Regions from separate parts of the Homo sapiens genome. Here regions 2, 3, 4, 5, 6 and 7 are each linked to region 1. Evidence: fine-mapped expression QTL. A gene starts in region 1. Each other region holds a variant in brackets. All regions are shown on one strand. Distances are between the middles of the regions. Region 1 holds the start of NCF1 (neutrophil cytosolic factor 1). Region 2 has its middle 22 kb from the start of MIR10525. Region 3 overlaps GTF2I (general transcription factor IIi). Region 4 overlaps GTF2IRD2B (GTF2I repeat domain containing 2B). Region 5 overlaps GTF2IRD1 (GTF2I repeat domain containing 1). Region 6 overlaps RCC1L (RCC1 like). Region 7 overlaps POM121C (POM121 transmembrane nucleoporin C).

What was found. PIP is the estimated chance that this variant, and not a neighbour inherited with it, causes the effect.
Region 2: its variant is fine-mapped to the expression of NCF1 in whole blood (TOPMed, PIP above 0.99).
Region 3: its variant is fine-mapped to the expression of NCF1 in whole blood (TOPMed, PIP 0.98).
Region 4: its variant is fine-mapped to the expression of NCF1 in whole blood (Lepik 2017, PIP 0.92).
Region 5: its variant is fine-mapped to the expression of NCF1 in whole blood (TOPMed, PIP above 0.99).
Region 6: its variant is fine-mapped to the expression of NCF1 in whole blood (INTERVAL, PIP 0.95).
Region 7: its variant is fine-mapped to the expression of NCF1 in whole blood (Lepik 2017, PIP 0.95).

The regions. Positions count from the first base shown.
Region 1 is chr7:74,771,681-74,775,745 of GRCh38, reverse strand. NCF1 (neutrophil cytosolic factor 1) reads right to left here and starts at 1,735. Exons shown (of 11, transcript NM_000265.7): 1 at 1,643-1,735. The coding sequence starts at 1,714. RefSeq lists an enhancer at 2,909-3,454.
Region 2 is chr7:74,616,214-74,620,278 of GRCh38, reverse strand. No RefSeq gene overlaps it. Among named protein-coding and RNA genes, the nearest start is that of MIR10525, 22 kb to the right of the region's middle. RefSeq lists enhancers at 2,306-2,870, 2,871-3,436. The variant A/G (reference allele first, on the strand shown) is at 1,947.
Region 3 is chr7:74,723,456-74,727,520 of GRCh38, reverse strand. The region is part of intron 12 of GTF2I (general transcription factor IIi); the gene reads right to left. It overlaps GTF2I-AS1 (GTF2I antisense RNA 1), which reads left to right. Exons shown (of 4, transcript NR_110044.1): 2 at 1-119. Among named protein-coding and RNA genes, the nearest start is that of GTF2I-AS1, 3.4 kb to the left of the region's middle. The variant A/C (reference allele first, on the strand shown) is at 2,355.
Region 4 is chr7:75,118,117-75,122,181 of GRCh38, reverse strand. GTF2IRD2B (GTF2I repeat domain containing 2B) reads right to left here. Exons shown (of 16, transcript NM_001003795.3): 4 at 1,172-1,291. Among named protein-coding and RNA genes, the nearest start is that of GTF2IRD2B, 28 kb to the right of the region's middle. The variant T/G (reference allele first, on the strand shown) is at 2,282.
Region 5 is chr7:74,602,184-74,606,248 of GRCh38, reverse strand. GTF2IRD1 (GTF2I repeat domain containing 1) reads right to left here. Exons shown (of 27, transcript NM_005685.4): 27 at 3,644-3,884. The coding sequence ends at 3,816. Among named protein-coding and RNA genes, the nearest start is that of MIR10525, 8.2 kb to the right of the region's middle. The variant C/T (reference allele first, on the strand shown) is at 1,625.
Region 6 is chr7:75,052,668-75,056,732 of GRCh38, reverse strand. It overlaps RCC1L (RCC1 like), which reads left to right. Exons shown (of 11, transcript NM_030798.5): 9 at 659-832; 10 at 3,937-4,022. Among named protein-coding and RNA genes, the nearest start is that of RCC1L, 19 kb to the left of the region's middle. The variant T/C (reference allele first, on the strand shown) is at 1,622.
Region 7 is chr7:75,418,932-75,422,996 of GRCh38, reverse strand. It overlaps POM121C (POM121 transmembrane nucleoporin C), which reads left to right. Exons shown (of 15, transcript NM_001099415.3): 13 at 1-1,488; 14 at 3,555-3,677. Among named protein-coding and RNA genes, the nearest start is that of TRIM73, 25 kb to the right of the region's middle. The variant G/A (reference allele first, on the strand shown) is at 2,290.

The DNA.
Region 1 (4,065 bases):
AGAAAAAGAAAAAGAAAAAAGACTGATCCAGATTAAAGAAGGTTAAAGGCTATGACATTGATCCTTGACTGGATCCTAGACCTGAAAAAAGTTTTCACTGCAGAGGACAAGCAGGATAATCGGGGAAACCTCAGTAAAGTCTGTGGGTGGATAATGGTGTTTTGTCCATGTTAATTTCCTGATTTTGACACGTGTGTTGTGATTATGTAAGAGAATGCCTTGATTTTAAGAAATGCCCAACAACTAGTATTTAGAGGTAAAGAAACACGTCTTCAACTCACTCTCAAATAATTCAGAAAATATCCCCAGAAAGAGAGGTGTGGATGAAGGTGAGTGAAAGACTATTGGAGTGACTGGTACCGTTTTGACACCCAGTAGCCTTTCTGTAAATTTGAAATTTCAAAACTGAAAGTTACAAAGAAAAGGAGAAAAGTGACTAGGCACGGTAGCTCACGCTTGTAATCCTAGCACTGTGGGAGGCTGAGACCAGAGGGTTGCTTAAGCCGAGGAGTTCAAGATTAGCCTGGACAACATAGTGAAACCTCATCTCCACAAAAATTTTAAAAACTAGCCAGGCATGGTGGTGTGCGCCTGTAGCCCCAGCTACTCAAGGGGCTGAGGCAGGAGGATCACTTGGGCCTGGGAGGTCGAGGCTGCAGTGAACTATGATCGCACCACTGCACTCCAGACCTCATTTCAAAAAAACAGGCCAGGCACGGTGGCTCATGCCTGTAATCCCAGCACTTTGGGAGGCCCAGGTGGGTGGATCACTTGAGGTCAGGAGTTTGAGACCAGTCTGGCCAACATGGTGAAACCCTGTCTCTACTAAAAATACAAAAATTAGCCAGGCGTGGTGGTGGGCACCTGTAATCCCAACTACTCTGGAGGCTGAGGCAGGAGAACCAGTTGAACCTGGAAGGCGGAGGTTGCAGTGAGCTGAGATCGTGCCACTGCACTCTGGCCTGGGCAACAGATCAAGACTCTGTCTCAAAAAACAAAAAAATAACAAAAAAGAGAAAGGTCTTGGCACATAGGACTAAATGTTCCATACAAGCTTCAATTTCCTAAATGTAGTTCCTCCCTGGCCTTCCTATGGGATTAGGGGACCCAGTGGACTTGTGTGTCTGAGCAGGCATTTGTCCAGCCTCCTTGGGGACAGATGGGAGGACTCTATTGGCCCCTGTCATGGTGTCACCCTACTGGAGAGGATAAGACTCTAACTGACACTACAGGCAGCTGGGGAGAGAGAGAGCTTTAGTTTCCAGGCCTCCCTCTTGGGAGGGCCACTCTCTGATAGCTGGGCTAGTCAGGGAAGGCTTCCTGGAGGAGTGGGCCTCGGACCTGAGAGAGCGCTGGGCTGCCTGGCCATGGCAGGGGAGCAGAAAGAGGACTCCTGGCTAAGGCTGAGGGCCTGGCTGGGGACACAGGCGGGGACAGTAAAGGGCTGGGGCCCAGGGCGGGTCCAAGGGAACTGTCTTCCCAGGGATCAGAGGGGTAGATCCAGGCTCAAAGACCAGGGACCAGGTGCCCAAGACCCTGCCCCGTTAGTCCTCACTGGAGCTGGTTGGCCCTGGGACTGCAAGGGTGGCCGTGCTGTCCCTCCCGTATTCCCCCCACGGGATGCCCTCCACCAGCTACTCACATAGTGCTGGCTGGGTACGAAGCGCTTCTCAAAGCCCAGCAGGGCGATGTGACGGATGAAGGTGTCCCCCATGACTGGGTGGCCTCCAGTGCTCCCTGGCACTTCCAGGCTGCGCCTTAAATGCACTGGAAAGAGGAAGTCGCTTTTGTCGCGGTCGGGACAGGGGGCAGGGAGGGTACAGAAAGGGCTTTGCTTCTTCTTTCAGTTTCTGGGGACTCTTCAGGCTTGCAGGGTGTAAACATGGGCAGACTCATGTTCACACACACCTGCAGGGACAAGGAAAAGGGTTTACACTTGTCCTTCCCGTCGCCTGCACGGGCCCCACGGGTTTTGGGGGTGAATCAAGCTGCTCCTGCCTCAGGGCCTTTGCATTTGCTGCGTCCCCTTGACCATCTTTCCCCCCTTGACCATATTCCTGGTCTTGACCATGTTCCCCCCATTCACCATCTTCCCTCCATAACTCTCCTCCATTTCTCTGCTCAAATGTCACCTCTTCCGAGAAGCCTTCCTTGATAACTTCACATTGCATAGCAAACCTCATACCTTTCTCAGCCTCTTCCTGCCTCCTTTTTCTGCAGAGCACTTATCACTGATGCATCGCAAATTGCATTTAATTTTTCTTTATTATTATTGCTATTGTTATTTGAGACAGGGTCTTGCTTTGTTATCCAGGCTTAAGTGCAGTGGTGGGATCACAGTTCACTGCAGCCTCCAACTCCTGGGCTCCAGCGATCCTCCTGCCTCAGCCTCTGGAGTAGCTGGGACTACGGGTGTGTGCCACCATGCCCGGTTAAATTTTTTTTAATTTTTTTGTACAGACAGGGTCCTGCTATGTTGCCCAGGATGGTCTCAAACTACTGGCCTCTAGTGATCCTCCTGCCTCTGCCTCCCACTTTTTTTTTTTTGAGATGGAGTCTCGCTCTTGTTTCCCAGGCTGGAGTGCAATGGCGCGATCTCGGCTCACCGCAACCTCTGCCTCCTGGGTTCAAGCAATTCTCTTGCGTTAGTCTCCTGAGTAGCTGGGATTACAGGCATGTGCCACCACACCTGGTTAATTTTTTTTTTTTTTAATTAGAGACTGGGTTTCTCCATGTTGGCCAGGCTGGTCTTGAACTCCTGACCTCAGGTAATTCACTCGCCTCGGCCTCCCAAAGTGCTGGGATTCAGGCATGAGCCACCGTGCCTGGCCTGACTTAATTTTTTTAGTCTCCCCTTACCACAATGTGTGTCCCAGGAAAGCTAGGGCATGACCGGGTTATCAGGGGCTCTAGCCCCAGCCCCTCCATCTAGTGCCTGGCACACAGAGGCCATAAATATTTGGATCGTGACTGCAACATTCACTGAGTGAATGAATGAGTGAGTGAATGAATGAATGAGTCAATGAATGAGTGAATGAATGAATGAATGAGTGAATGAACGCGGGCATGGGAGTGTGCATGCAAGCGTTAGATGCTCATCCTTGGGTGTGTGTGGATGAGGGCCAGTGACAGCTGGGACGAAAATGGCACAGACTTTGAGTGAGACTTGAGTTCCAATCCTCAAGTAAGCAAATGGTTCATTGAATTGTTCCTTAGGGCTGACTCAGTTTTCTCCAGAGTGATATTAAGACTGTCAGCTTTGCCAGGAAGGGGATTTGGGACAAAGAGGTGAGGAGGGGGCAGCATGCCCAGGGACAGGCTGAGGCCTCTCTCTCCCACTCCCCCTAGAGCCTGGGAGGCCCAGAGCTTTTGGAGCTCATTCAAGGTCATGAGTTCATGAGTGGCGGGCCTCAGCCCCAGGCAGCCTGCTGCAGCCTGTGCCTCCCAGCAGGCCAGGGCTGCACCAACTCACCCTTGCCTGAGTCCAGGGTCAGCTCATGGTCCGGACCTGATCTCCTGGGGGTGAGGGTTGAGGTCTGGCAGATGAAAGCCAAGACATGCTGGGCGTTAATTTATTTGTTTGAAGCGAAGTTTCGCTCTTGTTGCCCAAGCTGGAGTGCAGTGGCACAATCTCGGCTCACTGCAACCTCTGCCTTCCAGGTTCAAGCGATTCTCCTGCCTCAGCTTCCCAAGTAGCTGGGATTACAGGTGTGCGCCACCACGCCTGGCTAATTTTGTATTTTTAGTAGAGAAGGGGTATCACCCTGTTGGCCAGGCTGGTCTTGAACTCCTGAGCTCAGGAGATCCACCCACCTCAGCCTCCCAAAGTGTTGGGATTACAGGCATGAGCCACTGTGCTTGGCCCTTTTTTTTTTTTTTTTTTTTTTAAAGACAGGGTCTCTATCTGTCACCCAGGCTGGAGTGCAGTTGCCTGGTCATAACTCACTGCAGCCTCCAACTCCTGGGCTCAAGCAGTCCTCCTGCCTTGGCCTCCCCAGTAGGTTGGGACTACAGGCACATGCCACCGCACCTGGCCTGTTCCTGCTTTTATTATCCAGTGCATTT
Region 2 (4,065 bases), 160 kb after region 1:
TGCCAAAGTGCTGGGATTACAGGCATGAGCCACTGCGCCCGGCCCATGCCTGGCTAATTTTTTTGGGGGGATGGAGTTTCTCTCTTATCGCCCAGGCTGGAGTGCAATGGCGCGATCTCGGCTCACTACAACCTCTGGCTCCCGGGTTCAAGCGACTCTCCAGCCTCAGCCTTCCAAGTAGCTGGGATTATAGGCGCCCACCATCACGCCTGGCCAATTTTTTTTTTTTTTTTTTTTTTCAGTAGAGACGAGGTTTTACCACGTCGACCAGGCTGGTCTCAAACTCCTGACTTCAGGTGATCTACCCACCTCGGCCTCCCAAAGTGCTGGATTACATGCATGACCCACCTCGCCCAGCTGCCTGGCTAATTTTTATATTTTTAGTAGAGACGGGGTTTGCCCATGTTGGCCAGGCTGGTCTCAAACTCCTGACCTCAGGTGATCCATCCGCCTCAACGACCCAAAGTGCTGGGATTATAGTCGTAAGCCACCGCGCCCAGCCTCCATGGAGAGCTTTTTTTTGTCGACGATGTTAGGGCCACTGCAGCCAGTATCACCTGTAGGCAGCCCCTGCAGATCCCTGAGTGGCTGCTGGCACAGGGGAGAGAACAGGTGCGGGGCTCAGCAGGGACTAACTCTCTGTCTAAAGGAGAAGGCAGAAATTCTGCCCCCTTGGATCTTGGAGATCTGTTTATGGGTCTGTATCTGCCTGCTAGCCAGCTGCTCGGGGGCCCAGGAGTCTCACTCCTCTCCCAGGGCCTGACCTTTGCAGACAGAGGGGGTGCTGGGAACTAGTGCGATGAATGACAGCACCCAGGACACCGGGGCCTGTGAATCTTCAGCGAGGAGGTGCCCTGGAGCTCAGGGAATCCCAACCACTGCCCGGGGATGACCTACAGGGAGGTGGGAAGTTGGTGGCTGAACCAGTATTAGCACCTAAGTGTCTCACACAGCCTGGCCCTCTCTCCTGGGGCATCTGTGTCTGGGCCTGCAGGAGGAAGCCCCTCAATTGCTCAGGCACACGGAGTGATTTCTTTCTTTAGGGGGCAATTTGTTCTTTTGTTCCCTCTCCTTCTCCCTCTCTTTCCTTTCTGAGAAATCTGATTAGAACTTTGAAAGCTGAGCCGTTTTAGGATCAGGTTGCCACATTTAGCAAATAAAAATAGGGGATGCTGTGTTGAATTTGAATTTCAGATAAACAACAAATAATTCTTGAGTGCAATCATGTTCCTTGCAATATATGGACATAACTTACACTAAAACAATTATTTGTTGTTCATCTGAAATTCACATTTGACTAGGCTTCTTGTATTTTATTTGGCAACCCTACTTTCGGAGCCACGATTCTGTTAACAATTGCTTTTTTTTTTTTTTTTTCAGAGCTGGAGTCTCACTCTGTCTCCCAGGCTGGAGTGCAGTGGCATGATCTTGGCTCACTGCTACCTCCGCCTCCCAGGTTCAAGTTATTCTCCCGCCTCAGCCTCCCAAGTAGTTGGGACCACAGGTGTGTGCCACCATGCCCAGCTAATTTTTGTATTTTGAGATGAAATTTCACCATGTTGGCATTTAATCAATTCTTTTTTTTTTTTTTTTTTTTTTTTTTTATGAGATGGAGTCTTGCCCTGTTGCCCAGGCTGGAGTGCAATGGCATGATCTCGGCTCACTGCAACCTCTGCCTCCTGGGTTCAAGCGATTCTCCTGCCTCAGCCTCCCGAGTAGCTGGGATTGCAGGCACCCACCACCAGGCCCAGCTAATTTTTGTATTTTTAGTAGAGACAAGGTTTCACCATGTTGGTCAGGCTGGTCTAGAACTCCTGACCTCGTGATCTGCCCGTCTCGGCCTCCCAAAGTGCCGGGATTACAGGCGTGAGCCACCGCACCCAGCGCGATTTTACCATGTTGGACAGGCTGGTCTCAAACTCCTGACCTCAAATGATCTGCCACCC[A/G]CCTTAACCTCCCAAAGTGCTGGGATTACAGGTGTGAGCCACTGCGCCCGACCCGTGTTAGCAATTTCACTTGGTCCCTGTGCAGAAGCTGCAAAGAGAAGACTTTTACTGGGTCAGAAAGGAGGAGGGGGCACAGGAGTCAGTCCAGGTTTCAGGAATTTGGCCCCAAAAGGCAGGAGAACCTCTTGAGGACAGGAGTTTGAAACCAGCCTGGGAAGCATAGTGAGACCCCATTTCTACAAAAATAAAAATTAGCCGGGCATGGTAGCGTGTGCCTGTGGTCCCAGCTACTCAGGAGGCTGAGGCAGGAGAATCATGGATCACTTGAACCTGGGAGGTCGAGGCTGCAGTGAGCTGTGATTACGCCACTGCGCCTCCACCTGGGTGTTAGAGCAAGGCCCTGTCTCTAAAAACAGAAAAAAAAAAAAAAAAAAAAGCAGAGAGAGAAAAGAAAGAAACCCTTCTCTCTGCTGGCTCCCCCAGAACCTAGCTGGGTCCTGCAAAACTAACCCCACTGCCATTTCCCTCTGCCATCTCTCCTTTGAACAATCCCCACGGATCTCTGCTTGGTCCCAGCCTGTCTGAGTTTCCAAGAACAGAAGGAACGATGGCACCTGCTGCAAGATGTTGAGAGATAAATGAGGAAGCCGCTCAGACAGCCAGAAAGACAGGAAACCCTTGGCTGCCTCGAGAGAGGAAATAGGAGCAGGGAGGCAGGGGTGTGGGAGGGGGTTTGGGCCAGCAGCACTGTGATCCCCACCCCCGTCCCCACCACGTGGCTTCACAGGGCAGGCGCCATGAAGGCTCTGAGCAGCAAAGAGCTGCTGACCAAGAAGACATGGATCATGTGCAAGCATGGCCACATGGTTTTGTTTGTTACTGGGCACACGCCTGGCTCCTGTGTGCCCCAGCCCAGCTCAGCTGCATGTAAGATGGGATCCAGCCACCATCTCAGAGCCCCAGAGCAGGGCAGGTAACTGGGTCTGCTCATGAGAGCCAGGGCACACCTCTGGGGAGCCTGGGGCCAGCGCCACATGCCACAGCTGTCACTCTGCTCCTCTGCCAGGCTGCACTTGCCCCTCTGGGTCTCATGTCCCCAGGCAGGGCCCTGCCGGTCTCCTGGATGCCTGCTGCATTAGGCTAATGGAACTGGAGCCTGACCCTTTGCACCAAGGAATTTGGAGCAACTCTGAATCTGGTGGCCTGGGCTCAAACTGGAAAACTCCACCGAACCTTCCATGTCCTCAGTCTCCCTAGGCCTGCACCTACCACACTCTGCCACCACGCCCGGCTAATTTTGTATTTTTAGTAGAGACTGAGTTTCGCCGTTGGGAGGCTCAGGCAGGAGAATCGCTTGAACTTGGGAGGCAAAGGTTGCAGTGAGCGGAGATCACACCACTGCACTCCAGCCCGGGTGACAGAGCGAGATTCTACCTCAAAATAAATAATTAATTAATTAATTAAAAAATAGAAACCTCATAATCTCTCCATTGTCTCTAATCTTATCCCTTGATATTGACTATCAATGTTAATGGCAAGATATGTATCCTTCAGCATCTTTATGCTCATGTAAGTGATCACACATACACACGTAATTTTTCTACCTTTTCTCTTTATTTTTATGAAACAGAGTCTTGCTCTGTGGTTCAGGCTGGAGTACAGTGGCACGATCATAGCTCACAGCACCCTCTACCTGCTGTGCTCAAGTGATCCTCCAGCCTCAGCCTCCGGAGTAGCTGGGACCACAGGCATGCACCACCATGGCTGGCTAATTTTCTAGCTTAATGAAAATGGAGCATATGGTGATCAGTCAGGATTGCATTCAGCTCCTGCAAACCGTGGCTTAAATAAGAAATGAGTTTCACTTTTCTTGGGTGACAGCAGCTCAGGGTTAGATGGTGCAGTCTGCAGCAGCTGCTGAAACACACACTCTCTCTCCTTATGCGCCCTATTTCCAGAGTGTCACTTTGGTCCCCACGGTCATAGATGGCTTCTGCCTTCTAGGCGCTGAGTGCACGGTCGGGGCGAGAGAAGACAAAGGGAAAGAGACATGTATCAGCCAACTCTGATTCAAAGCACAATATGTGCTATGGGAAAACAACAGTTGGCCAGGCATGGT
Region 3 (4,065 bases), 48 kb after region 1:
AAAGAAACAGGCTCAGAGGATGTTATTTGATTGGACTATGTTGTATCTCTGGAGAGCACAGCTGAGATCAGACTGTGTGTGTGTAACTCCACTAGACTACGAGGGTGCTTCTCATAAAGGTAAGAAATGCAAATTTGGCCTAATATACGATGTTGCCCGGGGCAGCACTGGGTCACTTCTATAGACACTTCTGTGTTAATCAAGGGAAATCTTAAGGGAAGGTGAAAATGCTTCTAGAAGGCGACTGGACACCAGCACCCTTGCTTGCTGCCTTTGGGCTCTTCCTCTAAGGCCAACAGTGACCTGAAATTATTGACTGGCTGGCCGTGCTAATCAACTGGAGAAAATGGTTCCGAGGTCACCAACATCAGACAAATTCATTTTAGGACCTATGTATGTGCTTAGAAAGACAGAAGTGCTTTTGTAAAGGATACTATTTCAGAAAAACATAATCATAGTAACAACTAATGACGCTATAAAATGCTGATGTGTTGAATGCTACTTTAGAAAAACATGTTCAAATCTAGGAAAAAATTTGATAGAAAACTATCTATCTATCGGCAGGGTCTCATTCTTTCTATCTATCTATCTATCTATCTATCTATCTATCTATCTATCTATTGGCAGGGTCTCATTCTATCTATCTATCTATCTATCTATCTATCTATCTATCTATCTATCTATCTGTCGGGAGGGTCTCATTCTATCGCCCAGGCTGGAGGGCAGTGGCATGATTATAGCTCACTGCAACCTCGAGCTCCTGGCCTCAAATGATTCTCCTGCTTCAGCCTCCCAAATAGCTGGGACCAACACACCTGGCTATTTTTCTTTTAATTTTTTGTAGGGACAGGGTCTCATTATGTTGCCCAGGCTGGTCTGAAACTCCTGGCCTCAAGTGATCCTTCTGCCTCAGCCTCCCAAAGTGCGGAGATTATAGGCATGAGCCACGGGACCAGGACAGAAAACAATTTTAAAATGACAACCTCCCTGTGAAATAAAACTTGACTGGCACCTGGGTTTGTATGACTGTAAGGATTAAAAATGGTCAAGACACCCTATAAATAGATTAAGGTTCCAACCTAAGTAGAAACAATCTGGAAAACAGAAGTGTGTAAGTTTGGACCTCAATTCTGAAAATATACTTTTTAAAAAACCCGATTTTCCAACTCCCAAACAGATTTTAGAAACCTTAAGAGTATTTTTATGCTGGCTTCCAAAGGTTAAAACAAAATACACTCATTTCACCTATGAATACTGTCAAAGCATTATAAATGCTTAATATTACTATATATTTTTTTACAAACATTAAGCAGTAACTTCTAAAATAAAAGTATTTCCCCTATAGGTTAAGGTCTCCTAAGTATCCTTATAGATCATCATTTAAGCTGACTATTCATTGAGTGACATAAACTGAAAGCTGCTAGAGTAGAATGACATGAGAAAGGAAACACAGCTGTAGATGGAATGGAAGGGACACCTGTGGAGCTCCATCCCATGGATCTCAGTCCAAATCCAAACTTCACAGCTGAGGCCCAGGGGAAGGGAAGACAGGTTTTCCTTACTGAAAAGACTTCACTTTTTCAGTCACACAAACATTTTAGACCACAATAGATTTAATAGCATAAATATATTTTATGAAGGTAACCCAATCGATCATAAACCAAAAAAAAAAAAAGAAAGAGAAAAAGGCAAATCTACTAGAGTGCTTTTTTAATACAACAAAGACTGTAAAATATTGAAAATATCAGGGATATCACATTTTCCTCTTCACTGACAAATAATAAAGTTCAATCTGTTAAATGTGAACATATATAGAGATGAATGTAGTTACTTTATTTTTTAAGACAGGGTCTCCCTCCTTCACCCAGGCTGGAGCACCACTCACTGCAGCCTCGACTTCCCAGGCTCAGGTGATCCTCCCACCTCAGCCTCCCAAATAGCTGGGACTACAGGCCTGCACCACCACGCCCAGCTAATTTTTTTTTTTTTAACTTTTGTAGAGATAGGGGTCCCCCTATGTTGCCCAGGTTGGTCTTGAACTCCTGGCCTCAAGTGATCCTCCTGCCTTGGCCTCCTAAAGTGCTGGGATTATAGGTGTGAGCCACCGCACCCAGCTGGATGTAGTTATTGATAAAATATCACACCATATATTCTATTTTAAAAACCCTGTTTCATAAACTTATTAATTAATCTTTGGGTGTTTTAAGTCATATGGAACATGGCATTCAGGCATCAGAACAGCTATAAACTTCACCACATCCTCAATTTTTTCTGCAATTAACTCTTTGTTGCAATTAATTGGTTTTGAGAAAGTAAGAAAAAAAATGGGTTTCTCGACCTAAAATCCTTTCCAC[A/C]AAGGATCAAAATTACTTTTTACTCTGAAGCATAAAACATCAACTAAAGCTCTAGGGCCTGCCCTCACATACTGGGCATTGCTCTTCCAATTATCTGCCGTTTCCAAAGTATAAACAACCATTTTTGTTTAACAAGACACACGTTTCAGCATGCTTCAAATTCAAGCCCAAACTCTGTTTCCATAATCAAAATGTAAAGCTTTTAAAATACATTTTAAGATATTTTATTTTATTTTTTGAGATGGAGTCTTGCTCTGTCACCCAGGCTGGGAGTGCAGTGGGCAGTGGCACGATCTTGGCTCACTGCAATCTCCACTTCCTGGGTTCAAGCAATTCTCCTGCCTCAGCCTCCAGAGTAGCTGGGATTACAGGCGCCCACCACCACGCCCAGCTAATTTTTATATTTTTAGTAGAGATGGAATTTCACCATGTTGGTCAGGCTGGTCTCAAACTCCTGACCTCAGGTGATCCACCCACCTCGGTCTTCCAAAGTGCTGGGATTACACCACCACACCTGGCCCATTTTAAGATATTTTAATATGCAAAAGGTGCTATTCATGAATTTACAATAGTTATGCTACCCACACTAACAAAAGCACTCCGCCAATACCTTCAAGTTGGCAACACCGTCCCTAACTCAAAATTTGTGTTTAGAAAACACCAACTTCCTTTTTGCAACATATTAACGAATACACCTAAAGATAATACAGGCTTCAGAGCTAAAGCTGTTTATCACTGCATTCTGGCCGGTGAATCAATAAATAGACTATGTTACAATATGTTCTGATACTCTTAGCTTCAACATAATCAGACTGGGAATGTGTTATCATACAATCTGACATCTATTCAAAGTTAAAAAAACAATCAACACCAGGTAATATATCTATTTCAAAACTGGAGCCATTAATTACCCTATACATTTCAAATAAATGGATTCATTCTTTCACCCATGGATACCACTTATAGCTCCTCTAAAACTCTTTACATAAACAATTGGGTATTTATTAAATGACTATTTGGCAGCAATAAAAAAAATTTAAAACAAAGTGTTCAAGTGCTAACCTAAGCAATTATGTCCATTTTAAAAGTGCTGCAGAGACATTTAAGAAAATACAAGAATTAAACAATAAACAGCAAAGCCTGGTGGCTTTGTCTTCAAAATCTCCCCAGAATCAACAACTTCTTATCTCCCCTGCCACCAACCTGCTCTAAAGCACTCTTCTCTGTGCCCTAGGTAGTTCCAAGAGGCTCCCAAGCTAGTTTTCTGTCAAAAAACTATTGACTGCTCTAGGTCTTCTCTTTTTTTTTTTTTCCCCCTTTTCTCAACATAGTCACCACGTTTCCTAGAAGTGAAGGACAAAAAGTGTCACTCTTATTTGCAAAACACTCCCGAGGATTTGCCACTGAATTATTCACTACTAAATTCTTAGCACCGTGGCCAGGCGCGGTGGTTCATGCCTGTAATCCTAGCACTTTGGGAGGCCGAGGCGGGTGGATCACCTGAGGTAAGGAGTTCAAGACCAGCCTGGCCAACATGGTGAAACCCCTGTCTGTACTAAAAGTAAAATATTGGCTGGACATGGTGGCGTGTGCCTGTAGTTCCAGCTACTCCAGAGGCTGAGGCAGGAGAATCACTTGAACCCAGGAGGCGGAGGCTGCGGAGAACCGAGATCAGGTCACTGTACTCCAGCCTGGGCAACAGAGCAAGACT
Region 4 (4,065 bases), 350 kb before region 1:
TCTCTAAAATGGGATCAAGGAAGAAAGAGTGATCAATACAGAAGTTTCCACAGAGCAGAAGATCCAAGATCCACATCATCTTCTATAAGAACACTTAATCTGGTAATTAAGAACTGGTGGGCCGGGCGCGGTGGCTCACGCCTGTAATCCCAGCACTTTGGGAGGCCAAGGTGGGCGGATCACGAGGTCAGGAGATCGAGACCATTCTGGCTAACACAATGAAACCCCGTCTCTACCAAAAAATACAAAAAAAGTTAGCCGGGCACGGTGGCGGGTGCCTGTAGTCCCAGCTACTCAGGAGACTGAGGCAGGAAAATGGCAGGAACCCGAGAGGCGGAGCTTGCAGTGAGCCGAGATTGAGCCACTGCACTCCAGCCCGGGCAACAGAGCGAGACTCTGCCTCAAAAAAAAAAAAGAACTGGTGGCCAGGCACGGCGGCTCACACCTGTAATCTCAGCATTTTGGGAGGCCAAGGCAGGAGGATCACCTGAGGTCAGGAGTTCGAGACCAACCTGGCCAACATGGCAAAACCCCATCTCTACTAAACATACAAAAATTAGCTGGGCAAGGTGGTGGGCACCTGTAATCCCAGCTACTTAGGAGGCTGGGGTGGGAGAATCGCTTGAACCCAGGAGGCAGAGTTTACAGTGAGCTGAGATTGTGCCAATGCACTTCAGCCTGGGTGTCAGAGCAAGACTCCTCTCAGAAAAAAAAAAAAAAAGAACTAGCTCCTCGCTTGATAAGCATATGGGTTTTGAAATGTTCAAACATTCTAAGTAGTCATGGCAATAAGACTGTCTGTGACACTGTCCTACTCCTGGGTGAACCACTTAGAGAATTCATGCTTGGCTGGGCGCGGTGGTTCACGCCTATAATCCCAGCATTTTGGGAGGCCAAGGCAGGCGGATCACAAGGTGAGGAGTTTGAGACCAGCCTGGCCAACATGGTGAAACCCCATCTCTACTAAAAATACAAAAATTAGCTGGGTGTGGTGGTGGGCGCCTGTAATCCCAGCTACTTGGGAGGCTAAGGCAGGAGAATTGCTTGAACCCAGGAGGCGGAGGTTGCAGTGAGCCGAGATCGCACCACTGCACTCTAGCCTGGGTGGCAGAGCAAGACTCCATCTCAAAAAAAAAAAAAAAATAGAATTAATGCTTAAAGTGAACGTTACCATAACAAAAGCAGAAATAGTCCTCCACTGCCTTCCTGAGTATTTCCGTTTCGCCCGAGTGGACCTGCATCCCGTTCACAGGGCAGGGAGGTTTCACCTCACACAGTCCCTCTGCAACGCCTGCAAATGGATGATTGGCATTAGGTCAGTTTCTAAGCATTTGTGCTGTACACTTCCGTACTTTGTTTCTGGTATTGAAAGAAAAAAGGGAAAAAAGTGAATAAATATAAAACAAGATCTTTTAAAGAAAAACAAGAAAAAATTGTATTTATGATAAACAGGTTAATGAACTATAAAAAAATCAACATATAAAGAAATAGTAGTAGTTTAAGGAAATTATTATTTTTAGAGACAGGGTTTCACTCTGCTGCCCAGGCTGGAGTGCAGTGGGATGATCGAAGTTCCCGGCAGCCTCAAATTTCTGGGCTTAAGCGGTCCTCCCACCTCAGCCTCCAGGAGTGCCCCATCACACCTGGCTAACTTTTAAATTTTTTTTAGAGATGGGATCTCACTATGTTGCCCAGGCTGGCCTCTAACTCCTGGCCTCAAGTGATCCTCCCATCTTAGCCTCCCAAAGTGTTGGGATTACAGGTGTGAGGCACTGCACCCATCCAGAAATTATCTTTATAACAGAAATTTGATTTGCTATACAGTTGAAACGTGGCAATAATTGTATAGGAAGACTATACCCCTGAACCCATTCAAGACCAGCCCCAGAATCAATTGCTCCTCCAAAAGTTTTAAAACTGATTGTTTTCATCAGTCTAGTCAGAAGAGAGAAACCACATAGTAATTTGAACACAGAAAGGTTTTTGTTTTTTTTTTTTGTATCAATGTAAGGGGCACAAGTATAGTTTTCTTTCTTTCTTCTTTTTTTTTTTTGAGACAGAGTCTCGCTGTGACACCCAGGCTGGAGTGCAGTGGCATGTTCTCCACTCACTGCAAGTTCTGCCTCCCGGGTTCACGCCATTCTCCTGCCTCAGCCTCCTGAGTAGCTGGGACTACAGGTGCCTGCCACCACGCCCGGCTAAGTTTTTGTATTTTTTAGTAGAGATGGGGTTTCACCACGTTAGCCAGAATGGTCTCGATCTCCTGACCTCGTGATCCGCC[T/G]GCCTCGGCCTCCCAAAGTGCTGGGATTACAGGCCTGAGCCACCACACCCCGCCAAGTATAGTTTTCTTGCATGGATATACGGTGTTGTTGGTGAAGTCTGGGGTTTTAGTGTACTCATCACCCAAATAATGTACATTGTACCCATGAAGTAATTTATCATCCCTTACCCACCTCCTGCCTCCCACCCCTGAGTCTCCAGTGTCTGTTATTTCACACTCTATGACCATGTTTTTGTTTGTTTGTTTTGAGACAGAGTCTCACTCTGTCACCTAGGCTGGAGTGCAGTGGCGCAATCTCAGCTCACAGTAATCTCTGCCTCCTGGGTTCAGGAGATTTTCGTGCCTCAGCCTCCCTAGTAACTGGGATTACAGGCACCCGCCACTACACCAGGCTCATTTTTGTATTTTTAGTAGAGACAGGGTTTCACCATGTTGGCCAGGCTGGTCTCGAACTCCTGGCCTCAAGTGATCTGCCCACCTCGGCCTTCCAAAGTGCTGGGATTATAGGAGTGAGCCACTGCACCTAGCCTCACATTCTATGTCCATGTGTACCTATTATTTAGCCCCTCTTGTAAGTTAGGACATGCCGCATTTGCCTTTTTACGTCAAATGATAAAGACAATAGCCCCCAATCCCATCCATGTTGCTGCAAAAGACATCATTTCATTCTTTTTTTTTTTTTTTTTTTTTTTTTTTTTTTTTTTTTTTTGAGAGAGTCTTACTCTGTCGCCTAAGCTGGAGTGCAATGGCATGATCTCGGCTCACTGCAACCTCTGCCTCCCGGGTTCAAGCAATTCTTGTGCCTCAGCCACCTGAGTAGCTGGGATTACAGGCATGCACCACCGCCCCCGGCTAACTTTTATAATTTTAGTAGAGACGAGGTTTCGTCATGTTGGCCAGGCTGGTCTAGAACTACTGATCTCAAGTGATCCATCGCCTCAGCCTCCCAAAGTGCTTGGATTATAGGCATGCACTACCATGCCCGGCCATTTCATTCTTTTTTATGGCTGAATAGTATCCCATAGTGTACGTACCACATTTTCTTTGTCCCATCATCTGGTGATGGATGCTTAGCTTGATTTGCACATCTTTGCTATTGTGAATAGTGCTGTGATAAACGTTCAAGGCAGGTGTCTTTTTGATAGAATGATTTATTTTCCTTTGGGTAGATGCCAAGTAGTGGGCTTGCTGGATTGAATGGGGGTTTATGTTTAGTTCTTTGAGAAATCTCCATACTGTTTTCCATAGAGCTTGTACTAATTTACACCAACAGGTGAAGTTTCCTAGAAGAGTCGTCAACTGGTAACATGGGATTAGCTGCTAGAGGGACTGAGGACTCTAAAGAGAACATAAGCAGCAAATTGCAAGAGCATCTGTAACTGCTGGGCTAAGGCAGGGGACCCAGGAGGGAGCAAATCCAGGAATGGGGTGGCTCCCCAGGGCCGAGATCCAGACCTCATTAAACAGGATTTGGTCACGGCCCACTGGATAGTGGGGAAGCCTGTGGGGTTGTCCATGTGGTGGCTGGCAAGCAGGGGCCTGCTTTCTGGGGGTGCTGGTGGAAATCACTAGACAGTTACCCTGTGGGTGCCTGCAACACTTTCTGGGCGTTATAAGGAAGATGGCCTCTAGTGTGCTAGTGGAACTCTCTGGAAGCTACCTGGAGGGTGATGCCAAGAGAATTTGCTGGGAAGCCATGCTCTGGGGAACTGGTGGAACTCCCTAGGAAACTGCCTGTGGGTATGGTGCCACTGAAATTCACTGCGAAACCTCCTTCTGCAATT
Region 5 (4,065 bases), 170 kb after region 1:
GCCCAGGGCAGGGGCTGAGGGTGGAGTGGAGGCGCCTGGTGGCACTGGGAGCCACTAGGAGGTGGGAGGGAGGAAGGTGAGGCTGGCAGCTGACTGGGTGGGGGGTTTGCACCAGCGGAGAGGGGGTGGCTGTGCCAGGCACGTGGTTTCTAGCGTCTTTCCAGGAGGAAGTGTGGTCTGGAAGGCTGGGATGGGGCCTTCCTCCCAGCTCTGGGCATGGATGGGACTGACCCTGAGGACTGGCAGAAGCCCTGGACTAAAGTTTTGACCATTTCCTCAGCTGATTCAGAACTCAGTCCCTCCAAGCCACAGGCCTCATTCTGGGCCCTGGGTGGACGGTTAGAGCCAGATCCTGGGACCACCCTGACCCCTGACTCTCCAGAACCCCTCGTCCACCCGACTGGCTGACCCTCTAGTTATTTTCTCCACCTGGCCCAAACCACTGCCATCTCTCTCTCTCTCTCTTTTTTTGAGACGGAGTCTCGCTCTGTTGCCCAGGCTGGAGTGCAGTGGTGCGATCTCAGCTCACTGCCAATCTCTGCCTCTTGGGTTCAAGAGATTCTTCTGCCTCAGCCTCCAGAGTAGTTGGGATTACAGGTGTCCACCACCATGCCCAGCTAATTTTTGTATTTTTAGTAGAGACAGGGTTTCACCATGTTGGCCAGGCTGGTCTCGAACTCCTGGCCTCAGGTGATCCACCCACCTCAGCCTCCCAAAGTGCTGGGATTACAGGCATGAGCCACTACGCCTGGCCTCTACTGCTATCTTCTGTTGGAGCCTCCCAGGTGGTCTTCTGATGTATTCCTCCCTTCCTTCTCCGACATCTCTCAGCGGGCAGGGGCACCCTTCCAAAATGCAGACCTAGGCCTGGCTCTCCCCCAGGTACTTCCTGCTGTGGGTCTCATTTGCCTTCTGGAAATTGCCTTGGCCCGGCTTATGAGGCCTTCCACGTGGGTCGGTGAGAAAAAGTACGCAGCTCTGTCCCAGAGTGCATGGCTGGGCAGGTGTAACCCAGGCTGGATGTCTGCCTCTGCCCACCACTTCAGCCCGGCACCATGTGTAGGAGACACCTGCTTAGCGTCCTCGGGAACCCTGACTAAGTCCACACCTGCCCTGACATGTCACCTCCAGCCACCCTGTGTCTGCTCTGGTGACACCTTCTTATTCCTGGAACGTACCCAGTCCCTGTCCAGCTCCGTTTTTGCCCACATCGCTCTCGTCTTAAACACCCACCTACCTCAGCCCTCCTCTCTTTGTCCCCCCAAAGCCTCACTTGCTCTTCAAGCCTCAGCTTCAAGGACTCTTCCTACTTTCTGCACTAGGTGAGGCCCCCCCGCTTTGTTTTTTCAGAGGCAGGGTCTTGCTCTGTTGCCCATGCTCAAGAGCAGTGGTGCAATCACGGCTCACTGCAGTGTCAAACTCTTGGTCTCAAACAATCCTCCTGCCTCAGCCTCCAGAGTAGCTGGGACCACGCACACACCACCATACCCAGCTAATTAACATTTTTTAGAGAAAGGGTTCCACTATGTTGTCTAGGCTGGTCTTGAACTCCTGGCCTCAAGCGATCCTCCCACCTTGGCCTCCCAAAGCACTGGGATTACAGGCCTGAGCCACCGCACCAGCC[C/T]TACTCTGTTTTGTACTCCCTGGCAGCTGCCTCCCCAATTAGGACACTCAGCTGCTTGGCCTCCCCAGCCAGAAGGGCAGGGCTCAGTAAATATGTGTCACCCAATAAGCAGGGACTGGGTGCCAGGCCTTGGACGCCTGCCACGCTCTTGTGACTTGTCTTTCTGCCTTCAGTCTTGTCCCTTCCTTCAACTTCCCACCTGCCCCTAAAGTGGTCTTTCTGAGACACAGCTGGGACCCCATCACTCTGCTTGTCAGGTATCCAGAGCTCTATCCAAAATCATCCCAGGCTGGGCATGGTGGCTCACGCCTCTAATCCCAGCACTCTGGGAGGCTGGGGCAGGAGGATGGCTTGAGCCCAGGAATTTGCAGCCAGCCTGGGCAACATAACCCAAGACCCCATCTCTACAAAAAAATCAAAAAATTAGCTGGGTGTGGTGGCTCACACCTGTAGTCCCAGCTACTCTGGAGGCTGAGGCAGGAGGATTACTTGAGCCCAGGAGTTTGAGGCTGCAGGAAGATATGATCGTGCCACTGCATTCCAGCCTGGGGACACAGAAAGAACTTGCCTCTGAAAAAAGAAAACTTGTCCTGCCCCCACCCCACCCCCCTTTTTTTTTGAGATGGAGTTTCATTCTTGTTGCCCAGGCTGGAGTGCAATGGTACAGTCTCGGCTCACTGCAACCTCTGCCTCCTGGGTCCAAGCAATTCTCCTGCCTCTGCCTTCCAAGTAGCTGGAATTACAGTTGCGCGCCACCACACCTGGCTAATTTTTTTGTATTTTTAGTAGAGATAGGGTTTCATCATGTTGGCTGGGCTGGTCTCGAACTCCTGACTTCAGGCGATCTGCACACCTTGGCCTCTCAATGTGCTGGGATTACAGGCGTGAGCCACCGCACCTGGTCTCCAAACCCCTTTTTGAAGAAGCCTCCCATCCAGCCACAGTGCTTCACTGGGATGGGCCCCTCCCTCTCTGACATTTACCATATTTAACACTTTTTTTTTTTTTTGAGACAGGGTCTTGCTTTGTCGCCCAGGCTGGAGTGCAGTGGTGTAATCATGACTCACTACAGCCTCAACCATCTTTACTCAAGCAATCCTCCTCCTGCCTCAGCCTCCTGAGTAGCTGGACTCCAGGTGTGTGCACCACCACGCCTGGCTAATTTTTGTGCTTTTGTTTTGTTTTTTTGAGACGGACTTTTGTTCTTCTTGCCCCAGCTGCAGTGCAATGGCGTGGTCTCAGCTCACTGCAACCTCTGCCTCCCAGGTTCAAGTGATTCTCCTACCTCAGCCTCCTGAGTAGCTGGGATTACAGGTTCCCGCCACCACACCTGGCTAATTTTTGCATTTTTAGTAGAGATGGGGTTTCACCATGTTGGCCAGGCTGGTCTCGAACTCCTGACCTCAGGTGATCCACCCGCCTCGGCCTCCCAAAGTGCTGGGATTACAGGCATGAGCCATCATGCCCGGCCTCATTTTTGCATTTTCGTACAGACGGGGTCTCCTTATGTTGCCCAGGCTAGTCTCAAACTCCTGACCTCAGGTGATTCACCCGCCTCAGCCTCCCAGAGTGCTGGGATTACAGGTGTAAGCCACATTTAACATTTTCTAGAGAAAGGGTTCTACTATGTTGCCTAGGCTCATCTCAAACTCCTGGTCTCAAGCAATCCTCCCACCTTGGCCTCCCAAAGCATCGGTATTACAGGCCAATGAGGTCGAACTCCTGACCTCAAGCAATCCACCCACCTCGACATCCCAAAGTGCTGGGATTCCAGGCATGAGCCACCACGCCCGGCCCCGTGGCACATTTTCCTTCCGTGGCTTTTCTTCTTGAGGTCACGTGCTCCCAGGAGCACAGAGAGCTCTGGGGTCTTCCTGGACACTACCTCTGCTGTGATGAAGAAGGAGGGCCTTGGCAGGCCACCTGAGCTGCGTTTCCTGACCCTGTCCCCAGTGACAGCTGCGGCCACGATCCAAAAGAGAACATGAAACAGTGACCGTAAAAGTAAAGGCAACACTCTTTTTTTTTTTTTTCTTTTTTTACTTATTTAAAAAGGCCTTGGTGGCAGGAATATAGTGTAAAAATCATTGGAAAAACTAAAAGGCATCGATACATATCCGAATATACATTTTGTACATAAATTACATTTCCTTTAGTCTTTCTGAGTGAGGTCCTGATTCAGTACTGAGGTCTAGTAATTAAGAGGTCCCGGGAGCTGCACGTTCAGGCCGGCATAGTCCACCATGTACATTGGCCATTGCTAGAGAGAGGGACAAAGGGACTGGATTAGGACTCCAGGTGATGCGGAACAAACCCAAAATGCTTAGTTCTGCTTTTGGAAGAGCTTTCTCAGAGGCTATTTATTTATATTTTTTATTTTTTTGAGATGGAGTTTCACTCTTCTGCCCAGGCTGGAGTGCAGTGATGCAATCTCGGCTCAC
Region 6 (4,065 bases), 280 kb before region 1:
ATCTGTAGATACATGGCCACAGAGCTGAGTCATCCTAGAGCAAACCTCTGGAGTGGAGAGCGAACTACTTCATTCCCCTCCCTTAGCCTGGGCCAGAGAGACTCCAGCTCTGCCTTCTCCAGCCAAAAAATCAAAGGCAGATGGGAGAACAGCCTTCAGCTTTGGATAACGATGAAATATCTGGCACCACTGATGAATATTAAACTTTCTATAACCAAAACATCATTTCTAAGAGTTTTAAGAATCTGGCCAGACATTGTTGATGTGTTTGGCCTTCTGATCAGTGTGAAACACAGAGCTGTCATTAGGGGGAGAAAACATCCTCCAATTCTCTGGTATTCGTATGGGTTTTCTGGATGATTTATACGCTCGTCCCTTCCAGGTTACTAACCCTCAAGATGTGGGAAGTTTGTGTTCTGAGCCAGGAGAGCTGGCGAGACAGACTCCCCCAGCAAGAATTTAAGCAGGGGAGAGAGAATTATTATTCTAAATCTCTGTCTGCATGTTCTTGCCAAGCAAGGAGGAAAAAAACAAAACAAAAAAAAAACAAAAAAAAACCGTGTGGATGTCATAAACCTTGGTGGTGTAGTTTGAGTTTCTGGTGAGGGAGGTTCTTACTTGGATGGACTTACTGACCCTTGTTTTTACTGTAATGTAGGAGAAGGACATGTTTTTGTCTGGGGCTATGGAATTCTTGGGAAAGGTCCAAACCTAGTGGAAAGTGCCGTCCCTGAAATGATTCCACCCACTCTCTTTGGCTTGACGGAGTTCAACCCAGAAATCCAGGTTTCCCGCATCCGATGTGGACTCAGCCACTTTGCTGCACTGACCAGTAAGTTACCAAGCCCGGTGGCCCTGGTGTGAGCCCAGCAGAGGTTCTCTGTCTCCAGTTCAACCCCAAACTGCGGGCAGCTCTCAGGTTCCACCCATCCAACAGAACGGCGCCTTTGTACTGATAACTCAAGCAAGGGCTAAGCCAGAAGTTGTTTGCCTCGAGGTTGTATAATGTCTTGTTTTCCCCCCCTGGAGTTTTAATTTTGGTTCGTTTGGTTTGTGGGTAGGCTAACGTGAACGTGCATTTTCTCAAGAGAGCACCCGTCGGTGGTAGGAAGGGGCATTGCTAGTACGTCGGGTGCTGGAGGAAACCAGCAGAGGCTTGGCGGATCCATGGGTGGGTGATTAGGAAGTGAATGTGTGGGGCTTAATCCCATTCCCTGGCCGAGCCCAGACCCTGATCTGACCCAGGATATGGGATGGCAAAAGGCCGATTTGTCAGACTGTCCCGTGGTTTCACGGAGGTAAATCTACCGATTTCTCCAAAGTGCCGGGGTAGAGAATGATGAAAGGGGAGAGCAAAATGGAGGTTTTTCCCAAAGGCCTGCCAGATTACAAAGCCACAGAATATCCGCTTACCCTGCAGGGTAAGGGTAAGGAATGTGTCCTTTTCTTGGTTACATCTCTTACTCCACCACAGTTACCGTGGGTTCAATTTGCTGCTCTTTAGTTGACTCGAATAGTAAAACTGTCCTGAATTAATTTCATTCTGTGATTCTCAAGTAAATTAGTTATTTCCTTGCAATTAAAAGAATCTTTTCATCTCATGGCAAGTAATTGTTTTCTT[T/C]TTAAACATCCAGGCCGGGACAGTCAGTTGGTGTCATCTTTGGTTGAGTTCTCTGGCCTCATTCCCACGTGGGGCCTGTCCCAGATGCTCACCCTCTGTACCAGGGTCCTAACTGCTATTCACTTATTGTCTGAATTCCAGGCTCCAGAGGCCGTCAAACAGGCAGGCCTGGGTTGTTATGGCTGCCAGCTGGAGTTTTATCTGGCTCTAGGCTGAAGCACTGAAGTGGCAGTGGTCATGACTAAGCCAGAGAATTCCTGGCCACTGCCCAGCCAGAGTGGCCACTTGCATTTGCAGCTGAGTGTAGGTCTCATGAATTCTTTTTTTTTGAGTTGGAGTCTCACTCTTGTTGCCCAGGCTGGAGTGCAATGGCGCGATCTTGGCTCACTGCAACCTCCGCCTCCCGAGTTCAAACGATTCTCCTGCCTCAGCCTCCCAAGTAGCTGGGATTACAGGCACACACCACCACGCCCGGCTAATTCAGTGTCATGAATTCTTAAAGCTATTTTGATTTGATAAATAAGAGTCGTATGGACTAATTTTGGGGGAAACAAATATCTACTTTCCAGAAAGTTCTTAAGGCCTCAACTATGGGCAGAGACACATGTTTAGAAATCTGTGTGAAGCATTTGACTAGAGCAGAGGCTTTTCTATTTGCCCTCATGCCATGTAGCCATTTCAGGTCACAGCGAAATGAAATTCCTTTCTGGATTTCTCCCCGAGACTTAACAGGCCTCCTTCTAAGGGTGAGTTACTGCCTGTTGGTAGACAGAGCCTAGCTGTCTTCCTGCCTGTGTGCCTGGCATTTGCAGATAGCCATCTGGGAATTAGAGTTGGTTGGTTTATCCTGTGGTCTGCTAGCATTTTGGGGAGCCAGGCCGAATTGTTCTATTAAACACCTAAGGGCTAGCTGGGTGCAGTGGCTCATGCTTGTAATCCCAGCACTTTGGGAGGCCAAGATGAGAGGATCCCTCAAAGCCCAGGAGTTCGAGACTAGCCTAGGCAACATAGTGAGATCCCTTTTCTACAAAAAATACAGAAATTAGCTGGGTGTGGTGGTGTGCGCCTGTAGTCCCAGCTACTCTGGAGGCTGAGGTGGAAGGACTGCTTGAGTTTGAGAGTTCAAGGCTGCAGTGAGCTATGTTTGTGCCACTGCGTCGCAGCCTGGGCAGCAGAGTGAGACCCTGTCTCAAAAGCAAACAAACACACACACACAAAAACTATCTAAGGTCTGAGTGTGGAGAACAAGGGGCATGCTTAGATCAGGGGCCTAAGACAGCTTGTAATTATTCCGTACTTCATCAGCCCCAGGTCTTGTAGTCCTGGCTTTTCCATGTCACTTCCTCTGCCTCCCATGACCCAAGCCTTTTGCCCAACAGCTGATGGTGACATGGGCCCAGGAGTGCCCCAGCTGGTGCAGACAGAGTCCCACCTGAAGGCCGGGCTAGGAGAGGCCATCTCCTGGGTTGACCTCTTAAACAGCATCTTGTACTTTTTCTTCATGACAGTTTTTACAGTTTGTAAACATATATTAAAATCATCTGTCTGTTCCGTCTCTGGCCAGTCCCCAGCTCCTGGAACACAGACCTAGACCCAGCACAAGCAGGCACTTGGTCATTAGATGCCCTGTGGCTGAATGCTCCCAAGATATGGACAATCAATCCAGGAATGACAAATTGTCTTACTTTTCACTGTCAAATCAGGAAGCCCAGGGTGTCGCCAGGATTTGTGGAAGGCAGAGTTTGGTGGCACACGATTGTGGGCGGGGCACAAGGGGTGAGCAGAGTGGGCCGTGTGCATCAGTGACCTCCAGCCCCGTGCACCACCCCCAGACCCCAGCTCCATGCACCACCCCCAGACCTGTCCACCACCCCCAGACCCCAACTCCATGCACTACCCCCAGCCCTGTCCACCACCCCCAGACCCCAGCTCCATGCACCACCCCCAGCCCTGTCCACCACCCCCAGACCCCAGCTCCATGCACCACCCCCAGCCCCGTGCACCACCCCCAGACCCCAGCTCCATGCATCACCCCCAGCCCCGTGCACTGCCCCCTGCCCCATCTTCATTTGAGTGCTCATCTCCCACGTGGGTGGATGCAGCAGAAGTCCTGGCCGTGGATGTGTTTTCGATATGGGGACAGCATCTCAGACCCTTACTTTTGCCTTCAAAGAAAGCATGAACGCCTGGTAAAAGCTGAACAGTGGGCTCTGTAGGTATCTGGTTCTAGAAAGCCTGTTCTCATGACCCATCCTCTCCTTGGAGACTTGTTCTTCACACAGTCCCAACCAACCCCTGTTTTCCTCCCTTTGCAGACAAAGGAGAGCTGTTTGTATGGGGCAAGAACATCCGAGGGTGCCTGGGAATCGGTCGCCTGGAGGACCAGTATTTCCCATGGAGGGTAAGGCTGGCCGGGGAGGTCTTGAGAATGGATGCTAAGAGTA
Region 7 (4,065 bases), 650 kb before region 1:
CAGAGACGGCTACCAAACCCCAAGCCACATCTGCCCCGTCCCCCGCCCCCAAGCAAAGCTTCCTGTTTGGAACACAGAACACCTCACCTTCCAGCCCTGCCGCCCCTGCTGCATCTTCAGCATCTCCCATGTTCAAGCCCATTTTCACGGCTCCACCCAAGAGTGAGAAGGAAGGCCTCACACCGCCTGGCCCTTCAGTCTCAGCCACAGCGCCCTCCAGCTCCTCCCTCCCCACGACCACCAGCACCACAGCCCCGACCTTCCAGCCTGTCTTTAGCAGCATGGGGCCACCTGCATCTGTGCCCTTGCCTGCTCCCTTCTTCAAGCAGACAACTACTCCCGCCACTGCTCCCACCACAACTGCCCCGCTCTTCACTGGCCTGGCCAGCGCCACCTCTGCTGTGGCTCCCATCACCTCTGCCAGTCCATCCACAGACTCTGCTTCGAAGCCTGCGTTTGGCTTTGGCATAAACAGTGTGAGCAGCAGCAGTGTGAGTACCACGACCAGCACCGCCACTGCCGCCTCACAGCCTTTCCTCTTCGGGGCGCCCCAGGCCTCTGCTGCCAGCTTCACCCCGGCCATGGGCTCCATATTCCAGTTTGGCAAACCTCCTGCCTTGCCCACAACCACCACAGTCACCACCTTCAGCCAGTCCCTGCCCACTGCCGTGCCAACGGCCACCAGCAGCAGCGCTGCCGACTTTAGTGGTTTTGGCAGCACCCTCGCCACCTCCGCCCCGGCCACCAGCAGCCAGCCCACTCTGACGTTCAGTAACACGAGCACCCCCACGTTCAACATTCCCTTTGGCTCAAGCGCCAAGTCCCCGCTCCCATCATATCCGGGAGCCAACCCCCAGCCCGCATTTGGGGCCGCTGAGGGGCAGCCACCGGGGGCCGCCAAGCCAGCCCTTACCCCCAGCTTTGGCAGCTCTTTCACTTTTGGAAACTCTGCAGCCCCGGCCCCGGCTACTGCACCCACACCTGCACCTGCGTCCACGATCAAGATCGTGCCTGCGCACGTGCCTACGCCCATCCAGCCTACCTTTGGCGGTGCCACGCACTCGGCGTTTGGATTGAAAGCCACGGCTTCCGCCTTCGGCGCTCCCGCCAGCTCACAGCCCGCCTTTGGCGGCTCCACTGCTGTCTTCTCCTTCGGTGCAGCCACCAGCTCCGGCTTTGGAGCCACCACCCAGACCGCCAGCAGCGGGAGCAGCAGCTCGGTGTTTGGCAGCACAACACCATCACCCTTCACGTTTGGGGGTTCGGCAGCCCCCGCTGGCAGTGGGAGCTTTGGGATCAACGTGGCCACCCCAGGCTCCAGCGCCACCACCGGAGCTTTCAGCTTTGGAGCAGGACAGAGTGGGAGCACAGCCACCTCCACCCCCTTCACAGGGGGCTTAGGTCAGAACGCCCTGGGCACCACCGGCCAGAGCACACCGTTTGCCTTCAACGTGGGCAGCACAACTGAGAGCAAACCTGTGTTTGGAGGTAAGGAGGGGCGTGGACTTGGGCTACCGGGCCGGACACTGAAAAGCTGTGCCTGTGAAGCCTGTGGTCTCGGGGAGCTTATGCTGTGGCAGTGAAGAGACAGGCACTGAATATAGAACTCAGTGAGATGCCAGGGCATGATACATGTTTTGCTAACGTAGTAATGACTGGAGGAGCCATTGTGGATTTAACTGGTCAAAGGCCTTCTGAGTACTTAACAATTGTAAGCTGAAGGTTGGGCGCAGTGGCTCATGCTTGTAATCCCAATATTTTGGGAGGCCAAGGAGGGTGGATCACTTGAGGACAGGAGTTCAAGACCAGCCTGGGCAACTTGGCGAAACCCTGTCTCTACTAAAAATACCAAAAAATTAGCCGGGCATGGTGGTACCCACCTGTAATCCCAGCTGCTCGGGAGGCTGAGGCAGAAGAATGTTTCAACCCAGGAGGTGGAGGTGGCAGTGAGCGAAGATCATGCCACACTGTACTCTGGCCTAGGTGACAGAGCAAGACTGTCTCAAGCGTAAGCTGAATATGGGGGTGGGGTGGGGGTGGGCACAGCACAAGTGGACATGCCTTTCAGGCCCAGGATGGCGCATGCAAAGGCCCAGAGGCAGAAACATGTTTGGTATGTTGAAGAGCAGAACAAAGACAAGCATGGCAGGAGGGCAGGAGCTAAAGCAGTGGTGTGGAAGGAGGCCAAGAGGCGAGGATTGTTTGTGGCCAGGGTTGGGTGTTTGGGTCTTAAGTGTTCAGGAAAACCATTGCAGAATCAGGCAGAAGGATGCAGTGATGGTTCCTCCC[G/A]TGTGGAAGATGAATGTAGATCCCATGGCTTCTGTTTGCTTCGTGAAGTAGGAGAGAAAATCTGGGAGAGGGAAGGTCGGGATAAAGTGTATAAAAAAGGGGTCTTTTGAAATAGTCATTTTGGACAGTGGGGGAAAGGAACATCATATTAAAAAGTGTGATCAGTTTCCAGGCAGTTTGTGGGCTGGAAAATTGTGATTGTGAAGTTAAAGTGAGGCCAGTTAGCATGGCGTGTGTTTCCCAGCGACACTGGGTATAGATCTAAGGTCAGCGGACAGCTGGTGCCACCCGGCTGTGGAGACCCCAGCAAGCACAGCAGGAGGGGCAGCGGGTCAGTGCCCCGATGCAGCTCAGGGGGTGCAGGAGTGGAGAGCGGGTGAAGTCAGCTGCAGGAGGGGTGGTGCCTGCAGGAGATTCGGGAGCCGGAGCAGTTGTGGTGACAGTGTGGCTGCAGGAGTGGTGGCAGGGGTCGGGGAGAGGAGGTCATGGGGGTGGCAGGGCCGAGGGGCTGAGAGGACCATCAGTCAGCCCCACAGGGCGAAGTCACCGTGAGTGGTGATGGGGAGGAAGCCAGTGAGCCAAGGGTCCTCTGTGAATCAGGGAGTGACCTGGCAGTTGACAGGTGACATGAGGACATGGCAGATTAAAGTGATTTGAACCTGAGTTACGGTATTTAGGGAAGGAAGAGAAACTGTGTGGAAGCAGCGTGGGAGCACAGGGAGCTTCCCCTTGTCCGGGCCGGAGGCCAAGCCCTGAGAGCAGCCATCCCTGCAGAGGGGCTGCCAGAGAGGGCATCGGGCAGGCAGCCAGAGCCAGTCAGGGCAAGGCCGGGGAAGGGAGGGGACCACGGGGCATCACAAAAGACACAGGACGGACAAACCAGGCTTCAGAGGGGAGGGGACGGTGGCTAGGGGGAAAAGGCCTGAACAGAGGAGGTAGCCAACCCAGGTACGCTAGGAGGCGGGGGCCCCAGAGTACTCCCCTCTGCAGCGATGGTCAGGAGGCCCACGAGGTGGCTGCGGGGCAGGGGGGCTTTTTCTCTGCCCTGGCGTGGCCATTAGCGGGTGGGAGAAGCAGGCTGAGCTGGGGCACCAGGCATGAAGACTCGGTTGTCTGGCTCAGCTGCTGATGGAGGAGTGCCCCAGAAGCAGAAGTGGGGCTGAGGGTCCCGTGGGAAGTGCCCTGCAGAGCACAGGCTCCTGCCCGGCTCCTCGCCTGCCTCCGCCCTCTGCTCACTGGCTAGCTCTCTGTTCTCTTCATTCCAGGCACCGCCACCCCCACCTTTGGTCAGAACACCCCTGCGCCTGGAGTGGGCACATCGGGCAGCAGCCTCTCCTTTGGGGCATCTTCAGCACCCGCCCAAGGCTTTGTTGGTGTTGGACCGTTCGGTAAGCAGCAAGCCACCCTGTGGCCCTGCTCGTCTGTCTGAGGAGAGGTTGGGTGGGGTGGCAGGCTCCTGGCCCTCTGAGGCCCCGTGAAGATCAGGTTCAGCACAGGAAAGACATTTCGGGTTAGGAGTACAGCACAGCCCAGGGATGGGAGTTGGATGGCAGAGATCAGAGAGGAGCTGTCCGGGGTGGAAGTTTGCCTCCCATGGGAAGCCAGGTAAAAATGGATTCGTGGGCCTCGCTCTGAGACTCTGGGAGTTTGCATTTCAGGAGGCTCCTCCCGTACAGTGTTTCTGACGCAGCGGGGAAAGCCCTATTGAGGCACCCTGTGTTTTATTACTGGCCTGGCCTTCCAGAGATTTGGGCACCCAGAGCCAGAGTCTCAGGT